Regions from separate parts of the Homo sapiens genome. Here region 1 is linked to region 2. The links come from fine-mapping of genetic effects on plasma protein levels. A gene starts in region 2. The other region holds a variant in brackets. All regions are shown on one strand. Distances are between the middles of the regions.

The links. A credible set is the group of variants that fine-mapping cannot tell apart. PIP is the posterior inclusion probability: the model's chance that the variant is causal. Protein levels are from antibody-based Olink assays in UK Biobank. Linkage for the fine-mapping came from a reference panel and not from the study's own genotypes, which makes the PIPs less certain.
Region 1: its variant is the best candidate, but not a certain one, in a credible set for the plasma level of the ADM protein (UK Biobank, PIP 0.50).

Annotation. Positions count from the first base shown.
Region 1 is chr11:10,341,973-10,347,354 of GRCh38, reverse strand. All of the region lies in intron 2 of CAND1.11 (a long non-coding RNA gene), which reads right to left. Among named protein-coding and RNA genes, the nearest start is that of CAND1.11, 36 kb to the right of the region's middle. The variant G/A (reference allele first, on the strand shown) is at 2,873.
Region 2 is chr11:10,301,185-10,306,499 of GRCh38, reverse strand. It overlaps ADM (adrenomedullin), which reads right to left and starts at 1,427. Exons shown (of 4, transcript NM_001124.3): 1 at 1,271-1,427; 2 at 702-820; 3 at 402-551; 4 at 1-168. The coding sequence starts at 799. It also overlaps a transcript of SBF2 not described here. RefSeq lists silencers at 836-885, 906-955, 1,636-1,685, 1,866-1,965, 2,456-2,515 and enhancers at 3,440-3,619, 3,640-3,719.

The DNA of each region.
Region 1 (5,382 bases), 41 kb before region 2:
CTGTCCTGGTTTTTCTAACTTATATGGCAATGTCACCTCTCTGGCCTCACTTGAATAGCCCCTGGAAGGATTTTTGTAATAGAAAACTAATATGCATTTGTAGATGCAGAGAAGAAATTTTGAAGAAAGAGGTACAGCAATCTGAGGATTATGATTCTGCTAGGGATGGGAGTAGAGATGAAGCTGGTTGGAAATGGGAGAACTTACGTGCTTCAATTTTTTGAATATAGCTTCAAAACATGTATTAATTACAAATGTATCCAGCTGGGAATAACAAAAAATATTAAAAACCAAAACAGGTGGTTTAAACCACTGGTTCTTAATCTGGGCTACACATTGGAATCTGCTGGAGAGTTTTTTAAATTATTGAAGCTAGGGCTGGGTGCAGTGGTTCACACCTGTAATCCCAGCACTTTGGGAGGCTAAGGCAGCAGAATCGTTTGAGACCAGGAGTTCAAGGCTGTAATGGGCTATGGTTGTGCCACTGCCCTCTGGCCTGGGAGACAGAATGAAATCCTGCTTCCAATTATTGAGGCTTAGATCCTACCACCAAAAATTCCTATTCATTTGGGGGTGTATAGGGAGATCTTAAAACTGGGAACTTTAAGACTCCACAGGTGATTTTAATGGGTAGCTAAGTTTGAGGGCCACTTTACTAACTAGTTCAAAAAAGTAAAGGCTTAGCCAGGTGTGGTGACATGCACCTGTAGCCCCAGCTACTCAGGAGGCTGAGGTGGGAGGATCACTTGAGCCCAGGAAGTTGAGGCTGCAATGAGCGGTGATTGCACTACTGCACTCCCACCTGGGTGACAGAGCAAGACCCTGAATCAAAAAACAAAACAAAAAGTAAAGGCTTTTTTTAAACATAACACAAAATCCAGAAGTGGGTGGACCAAAACCAGCATAGTTGCTAAAGGTTGTCATCAAGGAATCAGGATCTTTCCATCTTTCTGCTCCACCATACTTAGCTCTCAGCTTTCATTGTCTTGGTAAATAAATGGCTGCTGCTACCGCATTGGATCAAAGCTCCAGACAGGGAGAGGGAGAAGGGCAAAAACACTCCTCCTCACAAGTCTTTGCCTTTTTTTTTTTTTTTTTAACATTTTCATAATTTTCTTTTAATTTCAATCCTCTGAAGTAACTAATTCTTTTTGGTTGATACTATGTTCCTGATTTTATTTTTTTATTTTATTTTTTATTATACTTTAAGTTCTAGGGTACATGTGCACAACACACAGGTTTGTTACATAGGTATACATGTGCTATGTTGGTTTGCTGCACCCATCAACCCATCATCTACATTACGTATTTCTCCTAATGCTATCCCTCCTCTAGCCCCCGACCCCTGACAGGCCCGGGTGTGTGATGCTCCCCACCCTGTGTTCATGTGTTCTCATTGTTCAATTCCCACCTATGAATGAGAACATGCGGTATTTGGTTTTCTGTCCTTGTGATAATTTGCTGAGAATGGTTTCCAACTTCATCCATGTCCCTGCAAAGGACATGAACTCATCCTTTTTTATGGCTGCATAGTATTCCATGATGTATATGTGCCACATTTTCTTAATCCAGTCTATCATTGATGGACATTTGGGTTGGTTCCAAGTCTTTGCTATTGTGAATAGTGCTGCAATAAACCTACATGTGCATGTGTCATTATAGTAGCATGATTTATAATCCTTTGGGTATATACCCAGTAATGGGATGGCTGGGTCAAATGGTATTTCTAGTTCTGGATCCCTGAGGAATCACCACACTGTCTTCCACAATGGTTGAACTAATTTACCCTCCCACCAACAGTGTAAAAGTGTTTCTATTTCTCCACATCCTCTCCAGCATCTGTTGTTTCCTGACTTTTTAATGATCACCATTCTAACTGGCATGAGATGGTATCTCATTGTGGTTTTGATTTGGATTTCTCTGATGACCAGTAAGGATGAGCATTTTTTTCATGTCTTTTGGCTGCATAAATGTCTTCTTTTGAGAAGTTCATATCCTGTGCCCACTTTTTGATGGGGTTGTTTGTTTTTTTCTTGTAAATTTGTTTAAGTTCTTTGTAGATTCTGGATATTAGCCCTTTGTCAGATGGGTAGATTGCAAAATTTTTCTCCCATTCTATAGCTTGACTGTTTACTCTCATGGTAGTTTCTTTTGCTATGCAGAAGCTCTTTAGTTTAATTAGATCTCTTTTGTCTATTTTGGCTTTTGTTGCCATTGCTTTTGGTGTTTTAGTCATGAAGTCTTTGCCCATGCCTATGTCCTAAATGGTATTGCCTAGGTTTTCTTCTAGGGCTTGTATGGTTTTAGGTGTTACATTTAAGTATTTAATCCATCTGAGTTAATTTTTGTATAAGGTGTAAGGAAGGGATCCAGTTTCAGCTTTCTACATATGGCTAGCCAGTTTTCCCAGCACCATATATTAAATAGGGAATCCTTCCCTCATTTCTTGCTTTTGTCAGGTTTGTCAAACATCAGTTGGTTGTAGATGTGTGGTGTTATTTCTGAGGCCTCTGTTCTGTTCCATTGGTGTATACATACATATATACATACATACATACATACATATATATATATTCCCAGCACCATATATTAAATAGGGAATCCTTTCCCCATTTCTTGCTTTTGTCAGGTTTGTCAAACATCAGTTGGTTGTAGATGTGTGGTGTTATTTCTGAGGCCTCTGTTCTGTTCCACTGGTGTATACATGCATACATACATACATATATACACACATATATATATACATATATACACACATATATATACACACATATATATACACATATGTATATATACATATATACACATATGTATATATACATATATATACACATATGTATATATACATATATATACACATATGTATATATAC[G/A]TATATATACACATATATATATAACAACACAGATATATATATATATATTTCTATGTGTTGGTACCAGTACCATGCTGTTTTGGTTACTGCAGCATGATAGTATAATTTGAAGTCAGGTAGCGTGATGCCTCCAGTTTTGTTCTTTTTCCTTAGGATTCTCTTGGCTATGTGGGCTCTTTTTTGGTTCCATATGAACTTTAAAGTAGTTTTTTTCCAATTCTGTGAAGAAAGTCATTGGTAGCTTGATGGGAATGGCATTGAATCTATAAATTACCTTGGGCAGCATGGCCATTTTCATGATATTGATTCTTCCTACCCATACGCATGGAATATTCTTCCATTTGTTTGTGTCTTCTTTTATTTCATTCAGCAGTGGTTTGTAGTTCTCCTTGAAGAAGTCCTTCACATCCCTTCTAAGTTGGATTCCTAGCTATTCTATTCTCTTTGTAGCAATTGCGAATGGGAGTTCACTCATGATTTGGCTCTCTGTTTGTCTGTTATTGGTGTAAAGAATGCTTGTGATTTTTGCACAATGGTTTTGTATCCTGAGACTGCTCCAGTTGTTTATCAGCTTAAGGAGATTTTGTGCTGAGATGATGGGGTTTTCTAAATAAACAATCATGTCATCTACAAACAGGGACAATTTGACTTCCTCTTTTCCTGATTGAATACCTTTTATTTCCTTCTATTGCCTGATTGCCCTGGCCAGAACTCCAACACTATGTTGAGTAGGAGTGGTGAGAGAGGGCATCCTTGTCTCGTGCCGGTTTTCAAAGGGAACGCTTCCAGTTTTTGCCCATTCAGTGTGATATTGCCTGTGGGTTTGTCATAAATAGCTCTTATTATTTTGAGATACGTTCCATCAATACCTAGTTTATTGAGAGTTTTTAGCATGAAGGGCTGTTGAATTTTGTCAAAGGCCTTTTCTGCATCTATTGAGATAATCATGTGGTTTTTGAGGTTGGTTCGTTTATGTGATGGATTATGTTTATTGATTTGCACATGTTGAACCAGCCTTGCATCCCAGGTGTGAAGCCGACTTGATCATGGTGGATAAGCTTTTTGACGTGCTGCTGGATTCAGTTTGCCAGTATTTTATTGAGGATTTTCACATTGACGTTCATCAGGGATGTTTGTCAAAAATTCTCTTTTTTTATTGTGTCTCTGCCAGGCTTTGGTAATCAGGATGATGCTGGCCTCATAAAATAAGTTAGGGAGGATTCCCTCTTTTTCTATTGATTGAAGTAGTTTCAGAAGGAATGGTACCAGCTTTTCTTTGTACGTCTGGTAGAATTTGGCTGTGAATCCTTCTGGTCCTGGACTTTTTCTGGTTGGTAAGCTATTAATTATTGCCTCAATTTCAGAGCCTGTTATTGGTCTATTCAGAGATTCAGCTTCTTCCTGGTTTAGTCTTGGGAGGGTGTACGTGTCGAGGAATTTATCCATTTCTTCTAGATTTTCTAGTTTATTTGCATAGAGGTGTTTATAGCATTCTCTGATGGTAGTTTGTATTTCTGTGGGATTGGTGGCGATATCCCCTTTGTCATTTTTTATTGTGTCTGTTTTATTCTTCTCTCTTTTCTTAACTAGTCTTGCTAGCAGTCTATTTTGTTGATCTTTTCAAAAAACCAGCTCCTGGATTCATTGATTTTTTGAAGGGATTTTGTGTCTCTATCTCCTTCAGTTCTGCTCTGATCTTAGTTATTTCTTGCCTTCTGCTAGCTTTTGAATTTGTTTGCCTTGCTTCTCTAGTTCATTTAATTGTGATGTTAGGGTGTCAATTTTAGATCTTTCCTGCCTTCTCTTGTGGGCATTTAGTGCTATAAGTTTCCCTCTACACACTGCTTTAAATGTGTCCCAGAGATTCTGGCACATTGTGTCTTTGTTCTCATTGGTTTCAAAGAACATCTTTATTTCTGCCTTCATTTCGTTATGTACCCAGTAGTCATTCAGGAGCAGGTTGCTCAGTTTCCATGTAGTCATGTGGTTTTGAGTGACTTTCTTAATCCTGAGTTCTAATTTGATTGCGCTGTGGTCTGAAAGACAGTTTGTTGTCATTTCTGTTCTTTTACATTTGGTGAGCAGTGCTTTACCTTCAACTATGTGGTCAATTTTAGAATAAGTGTGATGTAATGCTGAGAAGAATGTATATTCTGTTGATTTAGAGTGGAGAGTTCTGTGGATGTCTATTAGGTCCACTTGGTGCAGAGCTGAGTTCAAGTCCTGGATATCCTTGTTAACTTTCTGTCTTGTTGATCTGTCTAATGTTGACAGTTGGGTGTTAAAGTCTCCCATTATTATTGTGTGGGAGTCTAAGTCTCTTTGTAGGTCTCTAAGGACTTGCTTTATGAATCTGGGTGCTCCTGTATTGGGTGCATCTATATTTAGGACAGTTAACTCTTTTTGTTGAATTGATCCTTTTTCCATTATGTAATGGCCTTCTTTGTCTCTTTTGATCTTTGTTGGTTTGAAGTCTGTTTCATCAGAGACTAGGATTGCAACCCCTGCTT
Region 2 (5,315 bases):
CTCCTGGGGGCGACGTTGTCCTTGTCCTTATCTGTGAACTGGTAGATCTGGTGTGCCAGCTTCTGCACCGTGCACGTCCCGAAGCGGCAGCCAAAGCTCCGGAGGCCCTGGAAGTTGTTCATGCTCTGGCGGTAGCGCTTGACTCGGATGCGGGCGGCATCCGGACTGCTGCGGGCGGGGGGAGGGGGAAGAAAGGCAACTTGAGACCCCATCAAGCAGAGCTTTGGCCCCAACACCGGGAACGGGAGCCATTCTAGAGCCAGAGGGAGCTGGAAACTGCTCGCGCCATCTGAGCTGCGGTCCAGCCCCGACGATCCCCCGGGCCAGGGGAGTGGAGACAGAGAACTCCTCCCGCACACCTTCCTTCCCTCCCGTCCCTGGACAGCACAGGGCGTAGTTACCTGTCTTCGGGGCTTCGAGAGGCACCCTTCATGTCCTGGGGCCGAATAAGGGTCTGGGCAGGCCCGGCCTTCACGTCAGCGAGCCCGGTGGGGTAGCTGCTGGACATCCGCAGTTCCCTCTTCCCACGACTCAGAGCCCACTTATTCCACCTGGAAAACACAAGCAGACCCGATTCGCGTGCGTTCAGGTGACGCCCAGGCCTGTCCCTGCTCCCATTCACTTCTAGACCTTCGGGACCAACGGTCAGTTCCCCTTGCCTGCCAGGTACCAGCAAGGGGGAAGGCGCTGCCCGGACTCACTTCTTTCGAAACTCCGACGCGACATCCAACCGAGCGGTGTCAGCGCCTAGGAAGGCGAGCGAACCCAGGTACATCAGGGCGACGGAAACCAGCTTCATCCCGGCTGCGAAGCGCAGACCCTGGAAAAGAAGAAAGAGAGTCGAGCGTGAGCACCCGGGCCAGCTGCACCGCCCGGGCGGGGCACGGAGGGCGGGCAGGGGCCCCGGCGAGGCGGGTTTAGCCCGCGCTTTCCCTGGCTCAGACGCTTATCTCCCTCCGCGCAGAGAGGCGCCAGAGGCGTTTGCACGCGCCGGCCGGGTGACAGGCCCCGCAGGGGAGGCCGCTGCACCCCGCCAGGCTCCCAGAGGGTCTCTGCTCAACTTCTTGGAACTTGGCTGACGGAGCAGAGGGGACTGGGTCTCTGGACCTCCAGCTGTGTGCACGAGCTGGGCCCAGGATATGGGGTGTATCTATCTCTCAGAGAACCCTCCAAAGTGGGTTGTTCCCCTCACCCAGCGCTCCCAGTTTAGGGCCTTGGCAAGCACTGCCCCCCACCCCACCTCTTAACCCGCAGGGTCTGCGGCACCTACCTGCTAAGAGAGTGATCTGCCAAGTACTTGAAGGAGAAAGTCTCAGACGTCCCACTGGCAATGGCAAAACTCCGAAGTCCAAGCCCAGCTGCAGTGAGAAGCCCGAAGTGGCAAGGCTTGAGCTGTTCTATCCAGTGTCACCAAGAAACCACTGAGTGGCCAGCTCTGGTTCCTGTGCTTTATAAGCGCACGGGTGGGGGAGCGGCGGGGCGGGGCCTGGGCTGCCCGGTTGCCTTCCCTTTCTTTCCTCAGCCACGCGCGCTCCTGCTCTCGGACGCGCGCATTGCTTCCTTTGGGGCTGGAGTTGGGATGGGGGGAGGGGGGAGCGGGGGAGAGGAGGTCCCTCGTGCCCAGAGGGCTTAGGTATGGGCTCCAGGCGGTTGGTGCAGGAACTGCCACAGCCCTCTTTGGGCACAGGGTTCAGACAGTACGCCGGAGCGAAGGGGCGCCACTACAACCTCTTGAGGTCCTTATCCAGGACCCATGCGGCCCGGAGTGCAAAGCCTCCTGGCGAAGAACAGCAAGAGCCCGCGGAAGGGACAGCGCGGATGGCCCGAGCCCTGGACCTGGGGAGCTGTGGCCTCAAGTGGACCGCGCCCCCCTGCCGGCTTGGCGCCTGACCGGGCCGCGACCCCAGACTCCCGCGGAGGGGCCGGGGCAGGGACGGAGCAAAGCCGAGAGGAGCAGGACTCACTAGTCCCCCAGAGGACCAAGACCCCGGCGTTTCGGGGTGAGCTAGTAAGATTTCACGGTAGGGACAAGGCTCAGAAAAGCTAAATTGAGAATTGGGATTTGGAGGGGGGAATTATCTGAAATTTCAGAATTTTCATTTCTATTTGGAAACATAGGAATAACCAAAATTAGGAGGAAATATACTGTTTCATTTTGCCTCCTTGTAATCCTATTATGCCTTATAAGGTCATAACCTGAGATTGTGCCTGGCTGCCTTCATTAATCCATCGTAAACGTGAGGACTGACTGCCAGGGAGCACACTAACGCTTCACGTATGCTAATCATTTTACAGTTTACCAAGCACGGCCACATCCCAGTCTACTTTGAGCTTCACAGCCACCCTTGAGTCAGGCAAGGAAGGTAACATTCCTTTTCCCATTTCAGCAGGTAGAAAATTCAAGCTCAGAGAGGGGAGGTATCTGCAGAGAGGGGAAGTCACCCTGCAGGTAGGAAGCAGCAGAGTCCCTACTCGGCCCGACACGCTAGCACGGCCGACTGGGGCGCGGCGTGGATTCCTCTAGGCTGGGGTCACCAACTTCTCAAGGGGCAAAGGAGAGTCCTAGCCCCCGCCCAAAGAATTTGTGCCTGTTCATGATGAATCACGCTAGACACGTTTGTCACCCGTTTGTGCTCTTTCATCACAGCTTCTTCTCTTTCTTACTTCTCTCCTGGGGGCCAAACTGGGAAGGAAAGGCTAAGCCACGGGGCTTCCTGCTTCGTGCTTGTGGGTTTCTGGGGTCCTACTAACCACTCCTCTAATCGAATGTCCTGAAGCCCAGCGACTCGACGGAGAGGCCAAAGGTGCGAGACCACTAGCCAAACAGGCTTCTAGTCCTCACCTCCCGGCAATTCGCTGTGTGAAGGTGGGCGAGTCATGTCCCATCTCTCGAGTCCCCATCTTAGAGCCGGTCCCCAGCAGACCTTTAAGCTTCCTTCCTACTCTGCCATATGGCTCTGAGCTCCGGTGCAAAGGCGGCTGGGCAGTGGGTCGCGCGGACCTTGCCCAGAGTGGTCTGTCTGGGCCGCGCACTGCTGGCTTAGCTGCCTTTTCACTCTCGGGACTCAACAGTGGACATTGCACCTGGGGAAGAAATGGCCGCGCGGAAGTTATTTAAGGACTCTTCCTGGAAGGAGTCACCTGAGCGGACCTGAATTCCATCTGAGGACGGAGGACAGATTCCGGGCCCTGACCCTGGCCCTGGTAAGGGGTTGGGACGCGGAGGGTTAGAGGAGTGCAGCGCGGCGCACTGGTCTGGATCCGGCCGCCCGGCTGGGCGCAGGGCAGTCACCGAAGTGGCCTGGCCGGGCGACTAGTCCGTCTGCACCGCAGACAGCAGCTATTACTGAACGCCTGCTCGGTGACCAGGAGCCTCCCCAGCCTAACTATTGTTCTTCTCCCTTGTCTCCCATTTCCTTTTCCTTTCACTTTATCCTCTGCGAGTCAAGCTCTTCGCGCAGATCCAGGACTGGCTATCAGTCGCTCTGAGGATGCGACCTACTTGTCGCCAGCTTCCACTTGGTTCCGCGCCAGGACAGGTTTTACTTTCATTTCTCCCGCGCGCGCCTCCGACTGCTGGGGAGGTCAAGGACAGCTAGGCGTCGGCCCACGGCCAGGGAAGGTCCCGTGGTCTGGACTCGTTCCTTCCAGTCTCCACCAGTCCTGGGGGGTGGGGCGCGGCGGGGGTGTTCGTTCTCCAGAGAACTCTGCGACTGTACCTCGCTGCCACCTCGCTGCCTCCTCGCTGCCCTTTACAAAAGCTCGTGATTCCGTGGGGGAAACTTGAGCTGTGGCTCTGCCAGGAGGATCGCGAAGCAAGTGCCCTTGGTTCAAACTCCTCTTTGAGCTGCAGGCAGCTTCAAAAAGGAAAGCAAGCCCAGGAGTGTAGGGAGACTCAGAGGCTAGGCTCTGCCAGCCTCGGGTGCCTATGCCAGCAACCTCTTGGCTGTGACAAGAATTCCCACCTGAGAGTCTTGGCATGCACTTTATCAGCCTGGTGCACTTTGCCGCTCTGGCACTTAGAGATCTGTCACTTGAGAACCAAGTCAATTCTTTAAGTAAAATCTTGGATTGGCAGCTCAAAGTATTTTCCTAGAAAGCCCCTATCTTGGAGTGAGTGAGTGTGTGCGCGAGCGCGCACCCCGCTTGCATGGGTGAGTAGCAGGGGCTAGAGTGCTCCCCAAAGCTTCGTGGGTTTAAGTCGAAAAAAGATAAGGAGTTTGTTAAATCTGGGCATCTATGTTTTTTCTCGTGAAATCTCGAGTTTGTTTAATTAATCATCGTTAACGACAAAAAAAAATCACTAGAATGCATTTCTGGTTCAGTGGTTCTATGGAGAAGGAAATGCTGCAGTGGGAGTTCTGATCCTGGCAATTTATTAACATAAGTTGCATCCATTCAAGTGGCAGTGATTGTAGATTCACGTTGAGCAAGGACAGTACAAGGAAGGAAGGAAGTGAAGGAAGAAACATCTTTAAATTTCTGGCAAGAAAAGAGAAAAGAAAAAGAAAAAAAAATCCTTGTTAATGAAGATCTACTTTTTTTGTGTGCTCCAGAATTTCAAAAGGTCAGATTACAAATAAACCTCCAAACCACTGTAATAAATGTGTACATCCTGACATTAGGGAGACACACATACACATATGCTAAAGGGTTTTTGCGTAATGGTGTTTCAACTTCTTCACATTCCAATTGAATGATTTTTAGGCCCTATATCCAAGCCTGATTCTTAGTAAAGTTTGGAGTTTAAAAAAATATGTGGTAGTGGTTTCTCAGCTAGCACTGTGGACACAGTTCTTAAAGCCAGAGTGGCCATACTCAGGTCTTTCAGAGAAGCATTGAAAAATAATAAATATCAATGATATTAATAAGAATAACTAAAATGTGAGTAGCTAAGTGCATTGCATAATTATCTCAGATGCCTCCTTTATCAAACAGGAAATTTTATGATGCATTTATTATTAATATAGTTCAAAATGTCTTTTAAGCTGAGGACTTGTTTACAAAGTTCACTTGAAAACAAAGTTCAAGATGCATCCTGAAGTCATAACACAAAGTGATTTAGAGAAAGAACACAATCAGCCTTGTGGATTTGATCACTTACAAGGAGAAGTAAAGCAGGATACAAAGCCCAGGGCACTTTTTTGGGATCTCTGACTTCTCTAAGGACCTAATAAAAATATAGATCCTTTCCAGAAAAATGAACATGTACATAAACCGATTAAAGTATAAAATAGGCATACAGTTCCGGGAGGTTGACCAAGTTTAAAACCCTGACACAGAATAAAAAACACTGTTTCCATATTTTAAATTTC